Homo sapiens: one gene and its partners. The protein of the gene in region 2 interacts with the protein of the main gene of each other region in a biochemical or structural test. Each region holds a gene or a part of one and is shown on either strand. Other genes may lie near its edges.

Region 1 (3,500 bases), on a different chromosome or scaffold from region 2:
AGAATGGCGTGAACCCGGGAGGCGGTGCTTGCAGTGAGCCGAGATGGCGCCGCTGTACTCCAGCCTGGGCAACAGAGCAAGACTCCATCTCAAAAAAAAAAAAAAAAAAAAAATATATATATATATATATATATATATATATATATATATATATCCATTAACTTGAATAAATGTCATAGCTATACAACTAATGTGGAGAGTAATTTGTACCAAGAAAAATTGAAGCCACTATAGTAAATATTGCACATAGTGAGAGGAGATCTTTTAAATGTATATAAAAAAAGATAGACTTTTTTTGAAGATTAAAGATGTGACAAAGTTCTCCACAATGTATTTACCAAGTATTAGATGGCTTCAAACATAGACTTTGCTTAAGATGTTTAAAGCATTAAAACTAAAGGGGAGTAAAGCAAGGTGACAGGACAGAGGAAAAGACCAGAGTCTCGGCCGGGCACGGTGGCTCACGCCTGTAATCCTGGCACTTTGGGAGGCTGAGGAGACCAGCCTGACCAGGTTAGAGAAACGTCGTCTCTACTGAAAATACAACATTAGCCAGGCGTGGTGGCGCAGGCCTGTGATCCCAGCTAATCTCTACCCGGGAGGCGGAGGTTGCAGTGAGCCGAGATCGGGCCATTGCACTCCAGCCTGGGCAACAAGAGTGAAACTCAGTCTCAAAAAAAAAACACAAGAACAAAACCAGAGTCTGTGGTCCCAGCACAGTGTCCAAGTGCTGGACTGAGTGGACAAAAAGAGATGCCCTCAAGTACTGGCTGACTCTTGGGCAAGTTGCCAAATAGCAGTGTTTGGTTCATATTCAGGAAGTTATAACTGCAAGTCTATATATCTCATAGAATAGCAGGAAAATCTGTTTTCAAAGTAAAAATATAAGCACTACAAACTTTAAAAACAAAAACCTTGGCCAGGCGCTGAGGCTCATGCCTGTAATCCCAGTGCTTCAGGAGGGTGAGGTGGGTGAATTGCTTGAAGCTGGGAGTTCGAGACCAGCCTGGCCAACATGGTGAAACCCTGTCTCTATTAAAAATACAAAAATTAGCTGGGCATGGTGGCACATGCCTGTAATTCCAGCATCTTGGGAGGCTGAGGCATGAGAATTGCTTGAGCCTGGGAGGCGGAGATTGCAGTGAGCCAAGATTAAACAGTGCACTGCACTTCGGGCTGGGTGACAGAGCAAGACTCTGTCTCAAAATAAGTAATTAAGTAAATAAATTAAAAAAATACAAAATAAAAACAAAAACCTTAGTAGCCAGTGATAAGCCATAGTTGCTATGTAATGTGCAGTTGGGATTCTAAAAGTACAGTCTGAAATATAGGGTATTCTTTCATTTTCTAGGTACGGCTTACACACTGTGTTTTTGTAAGACTGCTTTTGTGAACTGTAGCTTATTTAGTAAAATGTACCCATGGCTGTCACAGTTATTGGGAGATGCCTGTAATTATAGGTGAGCTTAGTTGGTCATATACTTTCTAGGATATAGGGAAAGCATGATTTAATAGTAACATCCTATTAAAAAGTAGACTGTGGGCAGTTGTAGTATCAGCAACTTTTTTCTTTGAAGTTTTCTAAACTTCCTGAATTCTCCTATGACGTTGATTTCTAGAAAAATGAAATTTACAAGTACCTGTAAAGTTTAATAGTGTGCTGTTGCAGATGTTGTGTTCCAGCTCTCTGCTTTGATTTTCTGTTGGTAGGCCAGAAGCGGACTCCTAGAAGAGGGGAGCAGCAAGGATGGAATGACAGCCGTGGGCCGGAGGGGATGCTCGAAAGAGCTGAGCGGAGATCCTACAGGGAATACCGACCCTATGAGACAGAGAGGCAGGCAGACTTCACAGCTGAGAAGTTTCCAGATGAAAAGTATGTGCTGCAGTCCTCAGCAGGGCGGGTGGGGAACCAGAAAGGTTTTGAGAAAATGCTACTTTCTTTTTCTTTTCTTTCTTTCTTTTTTTTTTTTTTTTGAGACAGTTTCGCTCTTGTCGCCCAGGCTGGAGTGCAATGGTGCGATCTCGGCTCACTGCAACCTCCGCTCCCGGGTTCAAGCAATTCTCCTGCCTCAGCCTCCCAAGTAGCTGGGATTACAGGCATGTGCCACCACGCCCGGCTAATTTTGTATTTTTAGTAGAGACGGGGTTTCTCCATGTTGGTCAGGCTAGTCTTGAACTCCCAACCTCAGGTGATCCACCTGCCTTGGCCTGCCAAAAGTGCTGGGATTACAGGAGTGAGCCACCATGCCCGGCCCAGAAAATACAACTTTCTACTGGCTACTGCTTTTTGTGGTACCAGTCCTAGGAATGTTTTACTAATTTATGTGCAATTCATGTTACCTTAGATGATGGGAAGGATCTTCCTTTTTCCTCATAGATGCCTTTACGTCTTGGTTCAGGAAATGATTGTACAATTAAAAATGAATTGCTTGTTGGTAACTGAAGAGCACTCTTAAAAAGAAATTACACAGGAGTGTGTTGAACTGGTTTTCTTTTGAAGTTCTAGATTAGAGATATAATTTTGGACTAGGGATATAATTATGGTTTTTGATTTCACATTACCAATTTAGACTGCTCAATGGATTGAAATAAATTCCTAGCTCCACGGTCAGGTCAGTAGGCTGCCATGATGAAATTTGAAGAAGAGTCTGTTATGATGTGTAATACCAATTTCTGGAGGGCATGGCTGCTCTCCGAAGTACTCTAACATGGACAGAAGTCGTGGGCTGGTGGAGTGTTGCGTCGCTGCTTAGTGATGTGGCAGCATGGTGGCCACCGCACTCCACCTCAACACGGGGAGGGGTTGTGTCTTATGTTTGGCACTTGCTGCTTAAAGTCTTTGTTTAATCATTAAACCTGTTTATGTTAAACAGAAACAAGTAGTGAATCACATTTCAAGGAAAATAAAGTTAAACAAGCTAAGGAAGACTAGAATAGTGAACAGTTATATGTCAAGGGAGCCATTTTTCCAAACTCTTTCTGCTTCTTGACTGCTAATTCCATTCCATTTAGGATTCTGGCTACAAGTTTTAACCAAAAAATGTGGCTTTGTAAAACTATACTATAGAGCCTATTAAAAACAAAACAAAACAAAAGTCCAGCAGAGAGTAACTTAGCCTGGGTGGGCTGAGCAGGTGATGACTCATGCAGAACTGTTCACCTGGAAGTTACACATTCAAGACATTGAGATAGTCTATCTGCAACCATGTTGGAGGGAGAAACTTACAGAAAGCCTTAATTTTGCACCTTTTTTGGTGATTACTTCAAATCTGCTGTGTAGTAAGCACAGTCTCCTTGTTTCTGCAAAGCTTCTTGTAGCAGAGCTGCTTATTTTTGGAAGCATTTGGGTATTTATTTTCCCCTCACTTTAGGGATTCTGTGGAAATGAGGAAATTATAGTTCACTTGCACAAACCCATGTTTCCCCCCTTTTTTAGTAGCAAGACTGTGTAGTCTTTAAAAAGGATAAAATAGATCTTTATATGTGACATGAAAAAATAG
Region 2 (3,500 bases):
GAGAGGTGCTGGTGGCTCTCGGCCAGGCACTCGGCCTCGGCGAAGCGGGCGTGGAGGGCCATGGCGGGGTGCGCCGGCTCCTGCGACAGGTTCAGGTAGGCCGCCCGCCGCAGCTGCTCCTCAATCACCAGCGCCTGCTCCAGGAGCTGAGGGCACAGAGTTGGGAGGTGAAGGTAGGGCTCTGCCAGCAGTGGGTGAGGGGCTGGGGGGGCGGACATAGCAAGAGACCCACCCTGCCCTCACTGCTGGCCCAGGGCACTCCCAGCTCCAAACCGACTGCGAACCTAGCAGCAACCCTGACCCAGATCACACTCCCAAGCACAAGGTTACACTTTGGTCTTGGCCCCAGGTATCACCTCAGCCCTGAAGGTGTTAACCTTCCCTAGGTTCCAACTAGATCTGGTCTCACTTCTGACCCAAGCCCGTCTATAACCCGCTCCTTTCCTCCCTCATTCCCACCTTGAACCTCCGGGCCAGGAACTTATTTTTCATCTCCAGAAAGTTCCCCTTATTGGCTTCAGTTTTAAATGGCTCGTTGATAATGGCAAATTGAGCATCATTCTGGATGTCCTGCCACCGTGCATAGCCATGGCTACCAATGAAGGAAAAGGAACCATCAAGGAATTTAACAGGAATGGGCTTGGCTTTGAACACTTCTTCCTTTTGGCTTGACTCCCCAAAGTGTGGCACTAGCCCTGTCCCTGGGTGTGAAATCATCTTTTTTTTTTTTGCCAGCTTGAGAGAACCTTTTCCTTCTTGCATGTGTATCAAAGGATACAGGACAATCCCAGCCAGAAGCCAATAGTCATGTCTTCTGTGCCAGATCTCATTGAGTTTCCCCGAGGAAATAGCTGCCCGTTCCTCATTCTGCCACAGTGTGTGAAGCTCTGCAAAGAAGGCAGCAGACAGAAGAGGTAACAGGGTTTTGCAGACTGCACTCAGTCCAACAGACAGGTAGAGATGGAGAAACTGAATAATGAAAGGGAACTAAGGGCTCCTGAAGAGGAATGGGTAAAGGTTAGGTTTGGAACAAACTCAGTTCTAACCAGGTTCGTTAGAATTAAGAATAAAGGTGGGATTAGGGCCAGCTTTGGAGTTAAGAGGGATACTTAAGAAAGATTTAGAGCAAGGATCGGAGTCAGCATGCAACATACTTCATTGGAAGTTACTTGGAATTAAAGGTAGCAGGAAGCCTCAGGCAAAACGAGAAACCCCATGAGGATGAGCAGATCCCCTTGAGGAGCAGAAAGCAGCGAGAGTCTCCCCAACCTGTGAAGCCACCATCGGCGATATTGAACATGAACCGGGGCTTCTCTGTCTTTTCCTCTCGTCGCCCATTGGACCGTGGCTCATCTCGAGGCCCTGGTCGAAGCTCCCGGTCACCTTTTACATCTTCTGCTAGGACAGACAGGTCAAAGCTCACACCTCAGGACACCCTCCTCCCAGGTCCCAAGACTACTATCTGTACTGTACTGTACTGGCCTTTCAAACAGCTACCCGCCCAGGACCCAAGCATTCGGTTCCCCAGACTCCACCTCCCCTGATGCCCTCTGGGACCCAGGTGTCCGGTCCCTTCCACCCATTACCTCTCTTGCCCAAATCCCCTGTTTCCCCCTCCGGCCTCTCCCTGTGTTCCTGTCCATCCAACGGCTTCTCCTCCCCCCTTTCTCCTGGCGTCGACTCTGTGGCTGTGGGAGGGGGTAGGGGATAGGAAGGGAGGATGTTACCCTCATCCCCTGACCCCAGAAGAGGGAAATCCCAAATTCTAATCCCCCATCACTCCTAAGGCCATGCACCCACCTGACTTCTCTCTGTCCCCACGGTACCCAGGTTCAGGCTCCATCTCTCCAGGCACCCCTGGCACCTCATCCTCTAGAGGAATCTTCCTTGGCTCCAGCCGCTCCCCAAGTGATGGGGCTGGGCTGGGGGCATCAGCCTGGAAGAGGACAATGGGGTCAGGATGAGCCAGAGGGCTCCCAGGTACCTGGCCTCCAAGCCCCCTCCCCTCCCGCTCCACAGGGGAATCCAGGGAGCCACACACCTCTGTCTCCATCTTCTCCCCAATTCTGCTGTTCTTCTCTGGCTTTTCCTCCTGGTTTTCAGCTTCCTCCTTCTCAAGAGGTGTCCTTATGCCTTCTCCTTTCTCACTTGGAGCTGGAGTAGCTGCAGGGGAAGGCACAGTGATAAAGACAGAGATTCTCCCGCCCTGACTCCTGGCTCCCTTTCTGTCTCTCCCACCATCCTGACTTCTGATTACCAGGTTTAGAGGTGCAGGGACTGTTGGTAGCAGAAGCCTCAGGAGTGGTGGGAGACGTTTTGGTAGGAGAGGAGGCTCTGGAGGAGCGCTTAGAATCGGCGCTGGGGTCAGGCATCAGTTCCGGCATTGACCAACGCCCATTGATGTGCTCAAACTCCTGCACCTGGGGTGGCAGGGTGGGAGGGTTAGGTGTCAGCTCCAGGCGCTTACAGACAGGAAGCTCCAGTCTCCTCCGTCTCACACCAGCGCAAGCTTACAACTCAGGGACAGAGGCAGAGGAAGGACAGAGACTAGGCAGCCAGCTTGATTCTTTGGGTGACAGGAAGACTGATACCTTCTTTTTGACGAGAGACATGACTCCAATGCGGGTCAACACCTGCTGGCGACTCAGTCCCTCCCGAGGGACCCCATCGGCAAAGGTTTCAGAGCCGTCTGCCCCAGGCTCACACAGATGGCGCATGAACAAAGACACATAGGCCCTAAGGAGCATGGGAGTGGGAGGAGGGTTAGGGGAGCCACAGAAGGGGTATAGGGCAGTGAGGGAGGCGCGAGGATGACTGAGGACCCCCAAACCCCCAAATCCCCAGGTGCTCCAGGGCTCCTCCCCTGGGCCTCTCACTCTCACCATTACCAGCCCTCCAAGTCCTAACTGTCCCCCTGCGCCCCACCCCTGGGTCTTTCCCTTTGGCCTTGGTACTTAATTCCTGGGCCCCATCAGTCAGCTCTTCATCCTTTCCACCAGCTCCTCCTGCCAGGTTATTGTGGTCAAGTAAATGTGAGGCTAGGACAGCCCAGGAGAGGCTCCTTGCTTCAACGCCCCTCCCCTGGGGAGGATGCCTGGCCCCTCTACTCTAGGCTCGGCTGAGGGGAGGTGGAGTGGGCTGAGACCACCCCCCAGGAAATCGAGCCAGGAAGTATTGTATGACAGGGAGGGTGATAATCAGTTGAGTAAGGTCACATCATATGGCGGCCCCAAGGAAGAAAGGAACACCCAAAGCTCTTCCCCTTGCGTCCAACTCAGCCCTGTATCACCCACACTCACTTAAACTCCTTCTCAGTCTTGCCCCTCAGGTCCCGCACCAGCCACTGTGTGGTGAAGGCATCCTGTGGTGGCATCCCCCAGCGCATCACAGCATTGAGGAAAGCCTTCCGCTGACGGGTGTTGAAGCCCAGCACCTGAGGGTGGGAGCAAGGAGGCAATGGCGACAAATGTCTAGGGTTCTTAGGTCTTGTCCTTTCTACC
Region 3 (3,500 bases), on a different chromosome or scaffold from region 2:
CGAGGTCGAGGTTGCAGCAAGCCAAGATCATGCCACTGTACTTCAGCCTGGGCGATAGAGACCCTGACTCAAAACAAAGAAGACCCAGTACAAGTTCAGTGTTGAGTGCTAAAGACTTAAAAGAGTTATAAAGCTGAACCCTTAATCTTAAGAGGTTTATAAGTGAGAACAAGAATCTCCAAATCCTGTACTGTTTAATATCAGCATGAGACTAAACCACTGTCCTAAGAAGACAACCTTAATTTGAATCAAGTTATTTTAGAGTGATGTGTTTTCTGAGGCAGCTCTCAGAAGGTTATTGTCTGGTGTTAAAATAGTGAAATTGAGTAATAACAAGGTTAAAATCGGTGGACATTAAATACACACAAGACTTCAATTGCTGGGTCCTCCATTGATTAATGAAAAAATGATTGTTTTTGGAATTTGAGTGAAACACTTCTTAATGGCTGAGTAGGGTGGCTTACGCCTGTAATCCCACCACTTTGGGATCACTTGAGGCCAGGACTTTGAGACCAGCTTGGCCAACATGAGGAAAGCACGTCTTTACTAAAAATACAAAAATTAGCTGGGCCTGGTGGCTCATGCCTGTAATCCCAGCTACTTGGGAGTCTGAGGCGAGAGGATCGCTTGAGCTTGGGAGGTGGAGGTTGCAGTGAGCGGAGATCATGCCACTGCATTCCAGCCTGGGCGACAGAGCAAGACTCTGTCCCAAAAAAAAAAAAAAAAAAAAAAGAAAAGGAAAAAAAACAAAAAACTTTTTTTTTTTTTTTTTTTTGAGACGGAGTCACAAAAAATTAGCCACCATGCCCAGCTAATTTTTTTGTATTTTTGGTAGAGACAGGGTTTCACCATATTGGCCAGGCTGTCTCGAACTCCTGACCTTGTGATCCGCCCGCCTCGGCCTCCCAAAGTGCTGGGATTACAGGCGTGAGGTGCCGTGCCTGGCAAAAAAAAAAAAAACACAAAAAAACCCACTTCTTTATAATTTTAACAATTCCAACATCATCTAGTAGATTTGTGTACCATTATTAAATAATCCTTTAAAATAAGTTCTAAACCTAAGGCCCATAGACCATAAAGACTGAAAGTTCGCTTACATTGTATGGAGTGTTTTGTGAGTATTTGTGCATACGTATTTTTTTTTTTTTAAGATAGAGCATTGCTCAATTGCCCAGGCTGGAGTACAGTGTGGTGTGATCTCGGTTACTGCAACCTCTGCCTCCTGGGTTCAAGTGATTCTCCTGCCTCAGCCTCCCTAGTAGCTGGGATTATAGACACATGACACCATACCTGGCTAATTTTTGTATTTTTTGTAGAGATGGGGTTTCATCAGGCTGGTCTCGAACTCCTGACCTCAGGTGATCTGCCCGTCTTGGCCTCCCAAAGTGCTGGGTTTACAGACGTGAGCCCAGCCATATATATATATTTTTTTTAAATAGGAGAAAGGACCCATAGTCTCATCAGGGGTACGTGATTCCTCAAAATGGTTAAGGACCATCCTTTAACCAGTAACAGAAATCTGATTGGGTGCTTTCCTTTAGCCCAGTCTCACCTTGTAGCAAAACAAAGTGCTCGTACAGAACCCGAAGCTTAATATCAAAAGGATAAGGGTAATTTGTACAAATATTTTCCCCTTCCTCCTTTCTGATATTTGAGTTTATAGTGTTTCTTTTTTATACCAAAATCATTAAAGGTAGCTTGGTCAGCTCTTCAATTCAAGTCTGTTAATTGTAGCAATTGGATGACTGTTCCACTCTAACTGAATCTGTATTAACACCCCCAAAGAGAGATTGAATGATTTCCTTTTATCTTTAGTCAAGGATTTGGAAGCATTGTGTAATTCTGATTATCTGATACATTACCTCAAAATTTTGTGACTTAAAACAACAGCCATTTATTTTGTTTATAAATCTGCAATTTGGACAGGGCTCTGTGGATTAGACTCACCTCTGCTTCTTGGTGTGTGGGGCCTCAGCTGAGATGACTCAAGTGGCTGGGGGCTGGAACAGCTAGTTGTCAGGTGAGATGAGACTGGATGGGGCAAGTGTCTCCATATAGTCTCAGAGCCTTTCTTAGTGGTTTCATCATGTGATGTCAGCATGGAGACCCCAGGGTATTCAGACTTACGGCTCAGGGATCACAGAGAGAATAGGTGTTCCAAGAGAACCTGGGTGGAAATAGCAAGTCTCCTACAACCTAGCCTTGGAAGTCACGTCTGTAATTCTGTTGCCCACTCAAATCACTAAGGTCAGCCAGATTCAAGGGAAAGGCATTTATTTAGACACTGTTTCTCAATGGGAGAGTAACAAAGAATTTGCAGTTATCTTTAATCTACATTAATTGTATTTTTGCTGCCATGATAGTATTATTCCCTGCAGTGTTCTATATAGCTCCCTGCTATTGATTTTTACTGATTTTAGAAATTCTTTGCTTGAGATAGCAGGAGAATATGATGAACTGGTTGTGTATTAAAATTCATAATTGTGTGTACTACTATTTATATCATAGAATAGATATGTTAAACTGTAGTTATTACTTGAGTATGTAGTTAAGCATTTCATGCCCTAGGAGAAGAAGAATACTGTGTCCGCTCTGATAGACATGAGGTCCTGCTAGTGGATGTTACAAATGTATAGATTGTAGCATTATCTAAACAAACTTTACTAGTAGTTTAAAAATTGAATATGAATGTTATGATTACTCATTAAGATTTAGTAGTTCAGATTTAAAAACTATTAAGTAGTTGTCAACTCATGACATCCTTTAGTCCCGAAGGCAGTTAGGGTATCTCTTTCATAATTTTTACATGTAATGTTACAGTTATTTACGTTCCTTTTTTTTTTTTTTTTTTGAGATGGAGTCTTGCTCTGTGGCCCAGGCTGGAGTGCAGTGGCATGATCTCGGCTCACTGCAACCTCTGCCTCCTGGTTCAAGTGATTCTCCTGCCTCAGCGCCTCGAGTAGCTGGGATTACAGATGTGTGTCACCACGCCTGGCTAGTTTTTATATTTTTAGTAGTGATGGGCTTTCCCCATGTTGGCCAGGTTGGTCTTGAACTCCTGACTTCAAGTCATCCACCTGCCTCGGCCTCCCAGAGTGCTGGGATTACAGGTGTGAGCCACCGCGTTGCCAGTTATTTACATTCTAAGTGTCTTTTCTCCATTACATCAGGCTTTATTTATCCTCTTTTTCCTGTAATGCTTAGCACATTGAGTGGATAATTAGTAAAAAATTTTTTAAAGGAGAGTGGCCAGATTCATTCAACAAATGTTTATTAAATGTCACAATGTTCACAGCATGATTCTAGGCCCTAGAATTGGAAGGTCGCCTCAAAAACATGAAACAGCAGGTACCTTCCTCCTCCTCTTTCAGTCCTCTTGATGTTGTTTTGTTATTGAGGCAGGGCTGGTTGCCATGGAATAGTTTTTCTCTTATGATATTTTTGCATACCTTCTTCATCTTTACTTCTGTTAGCAATAGACCTGGTAACTATATCCAAAG
Region 4 (3,500 bases), on a different chromosome or scaffold from region 2:
ACATTAAAAGAATAACACAGATAATACCGAAGAATAGGTGCTAAAATTTACTTATTTACTTAAAAAATCTCCTGCACTGAAGGAAAATAGTATAAATTACATTACCAACCTTCAAAAGTTAGCATGTAAAGAGTATTCTGTCTTCAAACCACAGCCTCTCTAAAATAGTCTGTAAAAAATTCATAGGTGAAAAACAAATCTAGGGACCTCAAATGCACTGATTTATAATATTCTTAAATATTAAAAAAGGAAAGTAAACTAGCGGTGTGGGTAAGATGAAGCAAAATTTCAGGGATTTAGTACCTTTAAAGTGATCATACAATTTCTTTAGAGCTGAGCAGTTTAAGTAGAAATAAATACTAGTACACACTAGAAGAGAAGGTTTAATAATTGATAAAAATGTACAAAAATATTCAAATCAGAAATGCTTTAGAATGTGTACCACGAAGTCAATACTTCTCAGTGAGTAGGGAAGGCAAAATACTTCCTCAATAGCAGGGAAAAAAAAGCAAGAGAAAGACTGAATTTAGAAAAAAAAGACAACTGTTAAAGAAAATGTTTAAGTCAACTTTTTTTTTTTTTTTAGACAAGGATATTGCAACTATCACTTAAAGTCTGGTGGCACATTCTTTAGTAGGTCCTTAAGGCAATATATTTAAATTAATTTACAATTTGATTTGATGTTAAAGTTTTTTTAAACATCACCTCAAAATAGATGCTCAAAATAATGCCCTCACAATAGCCTTTGTAAAATGTATTCAGATGTTTGATAAAAAATAATGGTGGCTTTATATTACAGTAGTGCTCATTAGCACCACTATAATTAAGGGTCTACCAAGTTTCCAGCAAAACCACCTGTTTCTTAGGAGTTTCACCATAAAAGATCACATTGGCTTTAACCAGTTGGGTAGCGCACAAAAAAGCAATTTTTATCAGTTGCTGGTGCTTTTTTTGTACTACTATATTATCAAAAAATTTTTCATTAGATCTTCAAAATCCAGCTTCTATAAAGTAAATCAAATCACCTCATGACTTAGATTTTAGAACAAAGTAGAGACATCTGCAGTTATCAGTAAATTGCCACCTTTAATCCATCCTACAGTGCCCTGTGAAAGGGTCACAGAAAGACAGTTATGACTGTATGAAAATATGATTCTTGATACAGAATCAAAAGTTACTTTCAATTTCCTTTGCTTTTATAAAGTCCACGATAACAATACTTAAATGCACTTTTTTTTTCCTGTGATATAATTAAAACCCAGTGTTATTTCAGTTGAACTTAAAATAGAGTCCCTGGTCTGAATCAGACTTTAAATCATACTGTAAACATATATTTGGTATAATTTATTGATCATCATCCAGTTGCTCCAAAAGGGTTCTTCTGCGCTTTTCCAATTCCCCTTCACTCAGTTCGCTGCCAGAAGTATCCCAATTACCCTGAAAAGACATTGATTACAATTATAGTTGACATCAGTACTCAGAGGTTTACGGGCTGAGCCTTTGAAAAAAGAATCCAATATCTATATAAACTCTCTTCCAAAGAAACACATTTCACAGGGTTTAAAGACTGTGTGAATATGAAGCAATATTTCCATTTAATGGAAGCCAGGTATTCATTTCCTAGATAATACATTCCTTGCTAATTTTTTTGTTGAGACAGAGTCTTGTTCTTGTCACCCAGGCTGGAGTGCAGTGGCACGATCTCGGCTCTCTGCAACCTCTGCCTCCTGGGTTCAAGCAATTCTCCTGCCTCAGCCTCCTGAGTAGCTGGGATTACAGGTGCCTGCCACCAAGCCCGGCTCATTTTTGTATTTTTAGTAGAGATGGGGTTTTGCCATGTTGGCCAGGCTGGTCTCGACTCCTGACCTCGTGATCTGCCCACCTCGGCCTCCCAAAGGGCTAGGATCACAGGTGTGAGCCACTGCACCTGGCCTATTCCTTGCTAATTTTGTAGCTTCCCCCTGGTTCCACAAGTATTATCACAGAAACAGAAGTAGTATGCTTTAAGCATATGGATTCCTGTGCCAAATAAATACACAAGACTAATGAGCAGGACAAGATTTAGGCTGAACAAACAAAAATAATACTGCACCGTAAGACACAACCTTTGAAAAGTGGATAGTTCCCATATCGTCCTCTTTCATTCACTCCAGGGATTTCATTTAACCCACCATAAGCTGCTAGAAAGTACAAAGGAAACATTCACTCTTCACTTACGATGTGACTCAGACTCACCTGTTTCAGCTCTAAAAAAAAACCCACCCTATACCAACGAATCAGAATATCCAGAGATCCCTAATAGGGTTTTACCTACATAGTTTATGCTCTCCAGTGATGATTCATAGGCATTTACCCTTGCTAAACCCACAGCATTTGCATTATTAGGCTCTGTCATTCATATATACATATATTTGAAAAGGACTAATTATGTAATCTGTTATTGAAATACTAACTTTGGCTTATATTCTCCTCTCCTATTTATTTGCCCTTCCTCCACCCCAAATCAGTATTTCTAAAAGTTACTGGAATTGCTACCTTTTGAAACAAAGGATTTAATAACAGTGACAACTGTAGACATCTGTAGAATCCCAGATTTAGTCTCTCACTTAAAAAAAAAATTTGAAAATTAGGTAAAAAATGTCCAGTGGCACTTCTTAGTGACCATATCCTTTCTTAGTGAGTTAATAAGGCTATAGTTATGAAATGCTATATTTAAAAAATATCAAATTTAGGAGAATAAAATCTAGGATCATGCATGACCAAAAACTATGATATTGTGTGAAATGTACTTAACTGAATTTTCACTGTTTTCTTCAATGGTAGCACACCTGGAAAAAAGCCTATTCTTTCAACACCATCATGGTTTAACCACAGAATACATTTTTGCATTTTGAAAATACAGGCATGAAACAATTCTAAATACTTACAGAATCCTTTCCAGTCTTTTTCTTAGGCGATTTGTGTTTTGATTCTGATCTTTGTCTAGTTCTGTCTTTTTCACTTTCCCGATCTTTTTCTTTTTTATCCTTCTCTCGCTCAGCATCGGATTCTGGAGAGTCCTGTATGAATAGAAAATAACAGGTTAGCATTTTGATGAAGATACCATTGTTATATAGGTAATATTTAAGAACATCTATGTGTAACAGGTTATGTGCTCTTAGAGAGATGAAATAAAATGTGAATTGTTAACCTCAAGGATTTAGTAAAATTTACCCAAGATTCATGGGGACAGCTTTCCCTTGGGAAGGATAATATTCTGAAGGATAAAATACCACTCATGAGACTTACTACCACATAATAGATGTGTAGTATCTATTATGTAAATACAGACAGATACTACATTTCTCACCAACTCAATATAATATTGGTTTATATATGTACATAGTATACTGCTGTTAGCTTTAACACATAAGGCAGACAGCTGTATTAATAAAATTATTTTCTTGAAATTGCTGAGTAGGAATTATTTAAAATTTAACGTTAGTGCTTAAATGGTTATT
Region 5 (3,500 bases), on a different chromosome or scaffold from region 2:
TTCCATATTCCTTACTTGTCTCTAATTAGCAAACACTGAATTCCTGGTCTCTACCAAGTTGCTTAGTTACATAGGAAACTAGGGTACCCTCATCCTTGAATAATCTTTCTCTAAAAGATTACAAGGTTAATTTTCTCAATTAAAATCATAAATTTAAAATACTTTTATGTAATATCAGCTCTCTACCAGGTATAAAACTTGAAAACCTTTTCACAGGGAGAATGAAGTTGAAGAGGTAAAAGAGGAGGGTCCAAAAGAGATGACTTTGGATGAGTGGAAGGCTATTCAAAATAAGGACCGGGCAAAAGTAGAATTTAATATCCGAAAACCAAATGAAGGTGCTGATGGGCAGTGGAAGAAGGGATTTGTTCTTCATAAATCAAAGAGTGAAGAGGTAAAATTAAGTTTTGTCGTGTTTGAAAATGTTCAGATGTGACTTGAATTGTATTTATAATTTTTGTTTTAAAATTTCACATGGGTTATTTGTCTGTTAAAGCTTTACATAGGATCATTTGGGGCAGATAATTTGCTTTATAAGGAAAATAAACTGTATTATCACATATTCTAAGAAATTTAGTCCTTTGATCAATTTGTAATTATGTTTTATGTGGTAGAGTTACTTTTTCCTAAAAAGCTGTTAGTGGAGTATCTTGTAGTTATTGGTGTTCAGAAATATGATAGTTCTTTTCAAAGTTGTGGTTGTATTTTTGAAATCTTGCCAAACTGGGGATCATTAAAGGGCTGTGGTATTATGGTGTTAGGTTGAAATCTTGACATTTTCATATGGTTTAACCTAAAATGTAAGTGACTTCATTTAGAATTCAACTTTTGAAACTGTCTGCCTATACCATATATAATGGCCAGGACACTCAGTAAATGGCAATGTGCATTTTGTCTAAGGAATGACGACTTTAAAAACCAAAGTATATGTGGGTTTTACTTAAGAAACATGGAAACTAGTGAAAATACAGTTGACTTGTTGAACAACATGAGGATGCTAGGGGCACTGACCCCGCAGATCAATGCACATGTAACCTTTGACTCTCCCAAAACTTAACTACTAATAACCTGTTGACTGAAAGTCTTAGTGATAACATAACCAGTTAACACATTTTGTATGTTGCGTATTATATACTGTGTTTTTACAGTAAAGTAAGCTAAAGAAAATGTTGAGAAAATATATTTACTGTTCATTAAGTGGAACTGGATCATCACAAAGGTCTTTATTTTGGATAGGAAGAAAAGGGATTGGGCTTGCTTGTCTCAAGACTGACAGAGGCAGAATGTTCAAAGCCACGTTGTTCAAGGGTCAACTGTATTGGAGAAAGTCACATTGATGGCTTTTGATTTGGTAGCTTCCGTTTAAGCTTTGGGGTGTGTTCTTAGAGGAATGTTTCAGTGCGGCTTCCTGTTTGGCTTTAAAAACTCATACAAGCCCTAACTATATTATTTCTTCTCCTAAATTCATTTTCTCTATCAGCTTCCTTTAACCTTTTGACATTTGTGTTTGATTTATTCATATCATAAATTGGGCTGTGCCAGAAATCCAGACTGAGTTTTATCATCCTAAGGTAAAGTTAAATTAAAATATTGTGAGGGCAAACCCTTTCAATAAGGTATTAGTTATTTTTATTTTTTTTTTTTGAGACAGAATCTGGCTCTGTCGCCCAGGCTGGAATGCAGTGGCACCATCTCTGCTTACCGCAACCTCCACCTCCCGGATTCAAACAGTTCTTGTGTCTCAACCTCCTCAGTAGCTGGGATTACGGACACTCGCCACCATGCCCGGATAATGTTTGTGTTTTTAGTAGAGATGAGGTTTCATCATGTTGGCCAGGCTGGTCTCAAACTCCTGGCCTCAGTGATCCCCGCCTGCCTCAGCCTCCCAAAGTGCTGGGATTATAGGCGTGTGCCACCATGCCCAGCCAATAAGCATAATTTTTTAAACTGCAAAATGGCTATAAGACAAACTTGGAAACATTTTAAAATAAAATGGAGGTTAAAAAGATTAAAAGTTTTTTTAGGTTTAGAGATGATTTTTAACATTTACTTCATATGAGTAGTAAATGAGGACATTGTCTTTTTTAAGTCCTGTAGAAAAAAAACTGCATTAGAACACGTGGTTTCAGCCAGGCGCAGTGGCTCACACCTGTAATCCCAGCACTTTTGGGAGACTGAGGCGGGCGGATCACCTGAGGTCGGGAGTTCAAGACCAGTCTGACCAACATGGAGAAACCCCGTCTCTACTAAAGATACAAAATTAGCCTGGTGTGGTGGTGCATGCCTGTAATCCCAGCTACTCAGGAGGCTGAGGCAGGAGAATCACTTTAACACAGGAGGCAGAGGTTGCAGTGAGCTGAGATCACACCACTGCACTCCAGCCTGGGCAACAGAGCAAGACTGTCTCAAAAAAAAAAAAAAAAAAAAAAAACAACACTTTAACTTTCACATGTCTTCATTCTCGTGACAAATGTGAGGTAGTTAAGGGGAAGGAAGAAACTATTTACAAATGGAGAACTGTGTTACCGTGTTATTGACAGAGCTCAGAGTTTCTGTTTTCTGCTCCTCATTGTCTGAGTGCTCTAGAAAAAAGGTCGGACACAGTGGCTTACACCTGTAATCCCAGCACTTCGGGAGGCTGAGGTGGGCAGATTGTTGAGTTAAAAGTTTGAGACCAGCCTGGGTAACATGGCAAAACCCTGTTTCTACAAAAAATATAAAAATTATCTGGATGTGGTTGCGTGCACCTGTGGTCTCAGTTACCTGGGAGGCTGAGGCGGGAGAGGATCACTTGAGCCCAGGAGGCAGAGGTTGCAGTGAGCCAAGATAGCATCACTGCATTCCAACCTAGTTGACAGAGCAAGACTGTTTCAAAAAAAGGAAAAAAGAAAAAAAAAAAGGATCCCCCTGCCCTGACTTTATCCCAGTACAGTTTCTTGGTATCTGCAGGGGATTCGTTCCAGGACCCAGAGATATTAAAATTTTCAGATGCTCATGTCCATTATATAAAATGGCATAGTATCTGCATATAGCCTAAACACGTTTTCCCTATACTTTATTTTTTATTGTTTCTATTTTTTAATTTAAAATATAGAACAATTTACAGTTTTGCGTGTCATCCTTGTGGGGATCATGCTAATAATCTTTGTATTGTTCCACTTTTAGTATATATGCTGCCAAAGTGAGCACTCCCTCATACACTTTATTTTGAGACAAGGTCTTGCTCTGTCATGTAGGCTGGAATGCAGTAGCATGGTCACAGCTTACTGCAGCCTCAACCTCCCCGTGCTCAAGCGATCCTTCTAGCTCAGCCTCCTGAGTAGCTGGAACTACACACCTGTGCCAACTCCTGGACTCAAGCAGCCCTTCTGCCTATGCCTCCCAGAGTGCTGGGATTACAAGTGTCAGCCACCACACCTGGCCTACTTTTTATTGTTATATGGTTGGTTGGTTTTATTTTTTTCTGAATATTTTCGATCTGTGGTTTGCAATAAATTGAA
Region 6 (3,500 bases), on a different chromosome or scaffold from region 2:
CAAACAAACAAACAAAGTTTAAGGCTGGACGCGGTGGCTCCCAGCACTGTGGGAGGCCGAGGTGGGTGGATCACTTGAGGTCAGGGGTTCGAGACCATCCCGGCCAACATGGCAAAACCCTGTCTCTATTAAAAATACAAAAAAATTAGCCAGGCATGGTGGCGGGCACCTGTAATTCCAGCTACTTGGGAAGCTGAGACAGGAGAATTGCTTGAACCCAGGAAGCGGAGGTTGTAGTGAGCCAAGATTGCACCACTGCACTCCAGCCTGGGCAACAGAGCAAGACTCTGTCTCAAACAAAAAAAAAAAGGAAGGAAAGGAAAAAAAAAAAAGACTAAAGAGACAAATCAATGCAATCTCTGTTTCTTCACTAGATTCTGATTTTTTTTAAGTGTGAAAATTTGAGTGCAGATTCTGTTTTAAATAATACTATTTATCAACACTTAAATTTCTTGTGTGATAATGATATTGTGGTTATACAGGGGAATAACCTTACTCTTATGAGAGATAAGGTGAAATATTCTAGGATGAAATATCCTTGATGTCTGTAACTTACCACAAATCCTTCCAAAAAAAAAAATATATATATAGAGAGAGAGAGAGAGAGAAAGAGAGAGAGAGACTGACATAAAGCAAATTCAGCAAAATGTGAACAGTGCATCTTGGTTAAGTTTTTATGGGAATTTTACAGAAGTTCTCAGTATTATCCTTTCAACTTTTCTATACGTGAGAAATTTTTCAAAATAAAAAGTTGAGGCCAGGTGCCAGGCTCACACCTGTAATCCCAACACTGTGGGAGGCCGAGGCAGGTGGATCACCTGAGGTCAAGCATTCAAGACTAGCCTGGCCAACATGGCAAAACCCCATCTCTACTAAAAATACAAAAAAATTAGCTGGGCATGGTGGCGGGCACCTGTAGTCCCAGCTACTCAGGAGGCTGAGACAGGAGAATCGCTTGAACCCAGGAGGCAGAGGTTGCAGTGAGCCGAGATTGTGCCACTGTACTCCAGATCGGGAGACAGAGCAAGACTCCGTCTCAAAAAAAAAAAAAAAAAAAAAAAAGTTAGCCAGGCGTAGTGGCACACACCTGTAGTCTCAGCTACTCAGGAGGCTGAGGCAGGTGAAGCAGGAGAACCGCTTGAACCTGGGAGGCTGAGGTTGCAGTGAGCCGAGATTGAGCCACTGTACTCCAGCCTGGGCAACAGAGGGAGACTCCATCTCAAAAACAAAACAAAACAAAAAAAAAAAACATTGAGAGGGCAAATACCTTGTCTGACCTGCTGTTATTCAAGAGTTCAACAGACTCTCAAAACTACATGTAAAGACTGGGAGAAGAAAACTAACTCTGAGCACTTACTATGCAGCAGGTGCTCTTCACATCTGTGATTTCAGTCAACACTAAAAGGGTAATTATTTTTTATTTTATTTATTTATTTTTTAAGTGATAGGGTTGCACTCTGTTGCCCAGGCTGGAGTACAGGGGTTTATTCACATATGTGATCATCGTGCACTACAGACTCCAACTCCTGGGCTCAAGCAATCCTCCAGCCTCAGTCTCCTGAGTAGCTGGAACTACAGACATGCACCACCACACCCAGCTTTAAGGGTAACTATTATTGCTCTCGTTTTACAGAGGAGAAAACATACTCAGAAAGGTGGAGTGATAAGTCCAATAGTTGTGAGTGATGAAGTTCCACCAAAACCTGCCAGGATGCGAAGCCATGCTCTTCCACTCTTTCACTCTGCTCTTCTCCCTGCCTGCTTCTGTAGCCTCTCAATGCAAAATTTACTGTACCCAGTGAACCTCCACAGATAGGAAATCTACCTTCTGCAATAATACTCGATACTCAGTAACTGTGAAGTAATCAGATTGAACCATGCCTCTGCTGTTCAGCGAAGGAAGAAAAGCTAGTAGGAAAGTTGGGAAATAGAGATAACGTTTCTCATTCCTACGGGCTCCAACGTGTACACACTAGAAAGGACTTCAATGAGAGATCAGCCATGCTGGCTGGGCGTGGTGGCTCATGCTTATAATCTCAGCACTTTCTCTCTCTCTGTCTCTTCCCCCGTCCCCAAACAGGGTATTGCTCTCTCACCCAGGCTGGAGGGCAATGGCACAATCACCGCTCACTGCAGCCTCAACCTCCCAGGCCCAAGTGATGCTCTCACCTCAGCCTCCAAAGTAGCTGGAACCACAGGCAAGCACTACCATGCCTGGCTAATTTTTTAATTTTCAGTAGGAACGAGGTCTCCCTATATTGCAAAGGCTGGTCTCAAACTCCTGGCCTCAAGCGATCCTCCCAACTCAGCCTCCCAAAGTGCTAAGATTACAGGTATGAGCCATCACGCCCAGCCAGGAACTCACCACTACAAAAATTGTTTTAAAAATACATTAGCCAGGCCAGGCACAGTGGCTCACACCTGTAATCCCAGCACTTTGGGAGGCCGAGGTGGGCGGATCACGAGGTCAGGAGATCGAGACCATCCTGGCTAATACGGTGAAACATCGTCTCTACTAAAAATGAAATAAAAAAAAAATAGCCGGGCGTGGTGGCAGGTGCCTGTAGTCCCAGCTACTCTGGAGGCTGAGGCAGGAGAATGGTTCGAACCCGAGAGGCGGAGCTTGCAGTGAGTTGAGATCGCACCACTGCACTCCAGCCTGGGCGACAGAGCGAGACTCTGTCTCAAAAAAAAAAAAAATACATTAGCCAGGCATGGTGGTGCACACCTGTAGTCCCGGTTACTCAGGAGGCTGAGACGAAAGGATTGCCTGAGCCTGGGCGGGCAAGGATGCAGTGAGCCATGATCACACCACCGCACTCTGGTGACAGAGTGAGACCCTGTCTCAATCAATAGATCAACCACATAAAACAGAGCAATGTGGGGAACACAGAACAAAGGAAGCAATAAATGAAATTCCAGCAAGTCGTCTTGAGGATAGACTAAAAAGACTATACCATTATGAAAAAGTAAGTATGTTCCTGAAATGCAAAAGTCATGAAGGACAGCTAGAATAAACACTAGCATTCAGGGCATTCCTTGAAATTTTAAGGAATTACTTCTGAATAAAAGAACTTTACTAGACAAGTAGTCAACACATGAAAAATCATACCCCAAAAGATGTCGTAATAGAACTTGAAGAAAGGTTTAGATCCATTTGTGAGTGAAAACTCAGAGCTTATTAAATTGAATAATAATAATAATAGACAACACATTGTTTCAGGCACTGTTCTGGCATTTTTACATAAATAACTCATTTAAGGCCAGGTGCAGTGGCTCACGCCTGTAATACCAAGCTCTTTGGGAGGCCGAGGTGGGCAGGTTACCTGAGGTCAGGAGTTTGAGACCAGCTTGTCCAATATGGTGAAACCCCATTTCTACTTAAAAAAAAAAATTAGCCAGGCCTGGTGGTGCATACCTGTAGCCCCAGCTACTTGGGAGGCTGAGGCAGGAGAATCACTTGAACCTGGGAGGCGGAGGTTGCAGTAAGCCGAGATCGC
Region 7 (3,337 bases), about 22 Mb from region 2:
CCGCGACCTCTGCCACGTGGACCGCGCGCGGGGCGCTCCCTGGTGGCGATGGCGCGGCACTGGCCGAGCACTGCGGGGGCTTTCCTCCTTGTTGGTTGCTGAGTGGGCGGCCAAGGGGAGAAAAGGAGCCGCTTCTGCCTCCCTTGCCAAAACTCCGTTTCTAATTAAATTATTTTTAGTAGACTCTGGAGTTGAGCTTGTGCATCTGCCGCACAGAGACTCCCACCCGGACCCTCGTCCTAGGCCATGGAGGTGGTGTTTGAGGCAGCCCGCCCCCGCTGGCCAACCTGTCCCTGGACATGGGGCTTTAGGAATGTGCTCGTGGGAGGGTGGCGTTATCGTCATACATGTTAGCTTTGTTATTCGCAAACTAACTCTTCCACTAGACAGACGTTCCCAGCACAGGGGCTTCCCTAGGGCGGGGGTCCTGGGGCACTTGCAGTCACCCTTCATGTCTGCCACCTCCCTCCAGCCCCCATTCTCTAAGCATCAGAAACAGCTCATGGTCACTTCTTTATTTTTGATACAAATGTACATGACACGTCTTGACAGCCCACCCACCACCACACAGGTAGGGCCTGGCCCCCAGGGAAGAAGCGGGATGGGGAGAGAGCTGGTGGGTCCCACCGTCTGCCTCTCCAGCCTTCCCAGGCTGCAGCCAGGTTCCCAGGCCTCCAGAGGGTGGGACCACAGCAGGTGCAGGTAGTGATGGTGGGTGCTGGCCTTGCAGAGGTTACGGGGAGGGGACTCAGCTCCACAGCCACCAGCTGAGTCGGGGACCCCGGGGAGCCAGCCCCAGGCTCAGGTGCTCAGTCCTCCACCCTAGCCAGCACACATTCCCCCTCCACGCAGGAGCAGGAGGAGATGGAGGGAAGTGGTTTTTGATTTAAGTTCATAGAGAAGGGGCGAGAGTGGGGAGGGATCAGGGAGGCAGCTGGCAGGACCAAAACTGGCTACCCGGACAGTCCCTGGCTCCAGGTGGGGAAGGGAAGCTGATCCCCATGCTGGTCCCACTGCTCTGGTCCCCTCACCCCTCAAAACTCCAGATGGACCAGGCCTCCGGAACGGCACTGCCGCCCACACACTCAACACGCAGGCACGCGGGGGCACTCAGTTACCACAAAGTTAAAATTAAGGGGTGGGGAAGAAGAAAGAAAAAAAAAAAACAGACTTTCCAGTGTTTGCTGCTGGGGACCCCAGCACACAGGTTGGGGCCTGTGCCCTAGGCAGGGGCCATATGGCATTAAAGGGAGAGCAGCAAGGGGCTGGTGGCTACAGGGCAGGGACATCCATGGAGACTATGTACAAAGGAGGGGATGCCCCCGCTCAGCCCCCAGTAGGGCTGAACTGGCTCATGGGGGTGGGGCGCATGTACGGAGAGCTGCCCCACTTGGAGTGTCCCCACCTGCCCCTTTGCTGAGGGTGCCCTAGAAGGCGAGGGGCTGGGAGTGATGCCTTGCAGGCCCCTGCTCACTAGGAGGGGGGAGATGCTATATACAGAGGGGAGGTGCATGGAATGTGGGGGACAGAAGCTCCTGCCCCCCCACCTCCCCATCCTTAGGGGCTCGACAGGGGTGGGCACCAGGGCACCTGGCTGCCAGGGAGTGTGGCAGCACTAAGGGCACTTGTGCCAGTGGCTCTGTTGGGGTGGGGATTAATGTCTGGAGTGGCCCAGCTCCTATGGCCAGTGAGGTCCTAGGGTGCAGGTGAGGGTGTGGGGAGAGAGGTCACTGCTTCTTCTCTCGGGTGGTGATGGTGACCAGCTGCTTGGCAGCCTTGGCGATGTCATAGGCGCACTGGATCACCTGCTGAGTCAGCAGCTGGAAGTCCACTGGGGCGCCGGGCTCTGGGGGCACTGTCTTCCGGCACTCACTCTGCAGCCGGTAGGCGCTGGCGTTGAGCAGCCGCAGTGAGCTCCGCACTGGCTCCAGGGCTGGCCTCTGGAGGGGGCAGGAGTGAGGCTGGACCTTGGACTTTAAGCCACCAGCTGAGATCAGGGCCCAGTTTGTCTGTGTCTCCACCCAGGTAGCGATCAGATGGGATTCTCCACGCCTGCCCCAGCTCGAGGCCCTCCCACTCCTGGTCCTCTCTTTGGCCCCTGTACCTTTGGGAAGAGGGAGGCCATCTCGGTCACAGCCAAATGGATCTTCTCTGAGCAGGGCACGAAGCTGCGGGGAGAAGGGAGGCTATAAAGCAGGGGGCTCTCAAGGGAGGTTCCCAGGGACAGCAGAACCCAGGGCCCCTCATGCTCTCTGCAACACCCTAGAAGCCAACAGGAACTGCATCCCCCTCACCTCCCCCTCCACTCAGTACCTGTCATGCTTGAACTCCTGGGCTGCCCGCAACAGTTCCTGAATGTTCTTGGTGACCTGCTCTGTCTTCAAGATGACATCCTCTGTGCTGGGAAGCCCAGGATCTAGGTCTCCATCCAGGCTTTCCAGCTCTGGGTGGAAGTCTTCCTCTTTGCCCAGCTCTAGAAACCTCTTCCCTTCCAGCCTGAGGCCCAGGTCCAGAAAACAGAGACAAAGATACATATAGAGAAAGACACGTTCCAGCCTCGGAGCCGCCCGCCTTGGTCCTCACACACTGGGGGCCCTCTCAACCTCCCCGCCTCGGCATGTGAGCAGGCTGGACTGGAGACCCAGGGAGCCTCACCCCAGCAGTGGGTCCCCACTTTGCGTGTTCTCATAGTCACTGTCGGCTCCACTGCCGTGGCGGGAAAGCTTGCTCTGGAGGGCGGAGGGAAGGGGCTGTGAGCGCCGTGTTCCTGGACCCACACTGCCCCTAGCCCACACGGCCCCCAGCCACCCTGTGGGCACTGGGCATGGAAACATTACCGTGTGGCGGCTTCCCTCCTGGGAGCAGGACAGCAGCGGGGAGGAGGGAGTGAAGGGCACAGCTGAGGCAGACACCCCTTTCCGGATCTGAAACCCAGGGCAGCGCTGGATGGAGTCAGTGTGCCCCACTGCCCCCCTGCTCACCAGCAGTGCAGCAGGGACCAGGTCAGTCTAATCATCTTAAGCCCCGAATTCAGCACAGAGCCCAGAACCCCCTGGGGCTCAGAACCTACTGGCTAAGATGGACACGCCTTCCCCAGGCTTACCCGGTAAAGGCCAGCAGGGACGTGCACTGAATAGATGGCGTCGTCCTCTAGCTCCTGGGGATGTTAGCACAGCGAGCGTCATGGTGGACCCTGCGGCAGCCCCACCCATCTCCCCACACCTTGAGACCCATAGGTGACTCACAGTGCTGTGGAAAGGCTGCAGCCGCGTAGTGAGCTCGTCCCCAGGGGGGCCCCCAAAGGGCTTCAGGGCAGAGCCAGGTTCATACATGGAAA

What was found.
Region 1: the proteins of CHD3 (region 2) and HABP4 form a complex in vitro, tested with the Homo sapiens proteins (one study listed by BioGRID).
Region 3: the proteins of CHD3 (region 2) and SUMO1 form a complex in vitro, tested with the Homo sapiens proteins (one study listed by BioGRID and IntAct).
Region 4: the proteins of CHD3 (region 2) and PRPF40A form a complex in vitro, tested with the Homo sapiens proteins (one study listed by BioGRID).
Region 5: the proteins of CHD3 (region 2) and SERBP1 form a complex in vitro, tested with the Homo sapiens proteins (one study listed by BioGRID).
Region 6: the proteins of CHD3 (region 2) and PEX14 interact in a surface display test, tested with the Homo sapiens proteins (one large-scale study listed by IntAct).
Region 7: the proteins of CHD3 (region 2) and GIT1 form a complex in vitro, tested with the Homo sapiens proteins (one study listed by BioGRID).

What each region holds. Positions count from the first base shown.
Region 1 is NC_000009.12:96,456,669-96,460,168, forward strand, and holds part of HABP4 (intracellular hyaluronan-binding protein 4), read left to right. Parts: intron 1-1,710; coding exon 1,711-1,873; intron 1,874-3,500. UniProt on the Homo sapiens protein: Ribosome-binding protein that promotes ribosome hibernation, a process during which ribosomes are stabilized in an inactive state and preserved from proteasomal degradation.
Region 2 is NC_000017.11:7,905,789-7,909,288, reverse strand, and holds part of CHD3 (chromodomain-helicase-DNA-binding protein 3), read right to left. Parts: intron 3,434-3,500; coding exon 3,300-3,433; intron 3,167-3,299; exon of another isoform or gene 3,029-3,166; intron 2,737-3,028; coding exon 2,592-2,736; intron 2,421-2,591; coding exon 2,258-2,420; intron 2,164-2,257; coding exon 2,042-2,163; intron 1,937-2,041; coding exon 1,801-1,936; intron 1,689-1,800; coding exon 1,587-1,688; intron 1,399-1,586; coding exon of another isoform or gene 1,396-1,398; coding exon 1,270-1,395; intron 888-1,269; coding exon 779-887; intron 593-778; coding exon 460-592; intron 147-459; coding exon 1-146.
Region 3 is NC_000002.12:202,232,098-202,235,597, reverse strand, and holds part of SUMO1 (small ubiquitin-related modifier 1 isoform a precursor), read left to right. Parts: intron 1-3,500. UniProt on the Homo sapiens protein: Ubiquitin-like protein that can be covalently attached to proteins as a monomer or a lysine-linked polymer.
Region 4 is NC_000002.12:152,654,962-152,658,461, forward strand, and holds part of PRPF40A (pre-mRNA-processing factor 40 homolog A), read right to left. Parts: intron 3,060-3,500; coding exon 2,928-3,059; intron 2,181-2,927; coding exon of another isoform or gene 2,163-2,180; exon of another isoform or gene 1,438-2,162; coding exon 1,345-1,437; 3' UTR 1-1,344.
Region 5 is NC_000001.11:67,416,903-67,420,402, reverse strand, and holds part of SERBP1 (SERPINE1 mRNA-binding protein 1), read left to right. Parts: intron 1-216; coding exon 217-394; intron 395-3,500. UniProt on the Homo sapiens protein: Ribosome-binding protein that promotes ribosome hibernation, a process during which ribosomes are stabilized in an inactive state and preserved from proteasomal degradation.
Region 6 is NC_000001.11:10,477,950-10,481,449, reverse strand, and holds part of PEX14 (peroxisomal membrane protein PEX14), read right to left. Parts: intron 1-3,500. UniProt on the Homo sapiens protein: Component of the PEX13-PEX14 docking complex, a translocon channel that specifically mediates the import of peroxisomal cargo proteins bound to PEX5 receptor.
Region 7 is NC_000017.11:29,572,975-29,576,311, forward strand, and holds the end of GIT1 (ARF GTPase-activating protein GIT1), read right to left. Parts: coding exon 3,246-3,337; intron 3,158-3,245; coding exon 3,104-3,157; intron 2,925-3,103; coding exon 2,838-2,924; intron 2,730-2,837; coding exon 2,656-2,729; intron 2,497-2,655; coding exon 2,314-2,496; intron 2,169-2,313; coding exon 2,105-2,168; intron 1,962-2,104; coding exon of another isoform or gene 1,941-1,961; coding exon 1,728-1,940; 3' UTR 501-1,727; downstream 1-500. UniProt on the Homo sapiens protein: GTPase-activating protein for ADP ribosylation factor family members, including ARF1.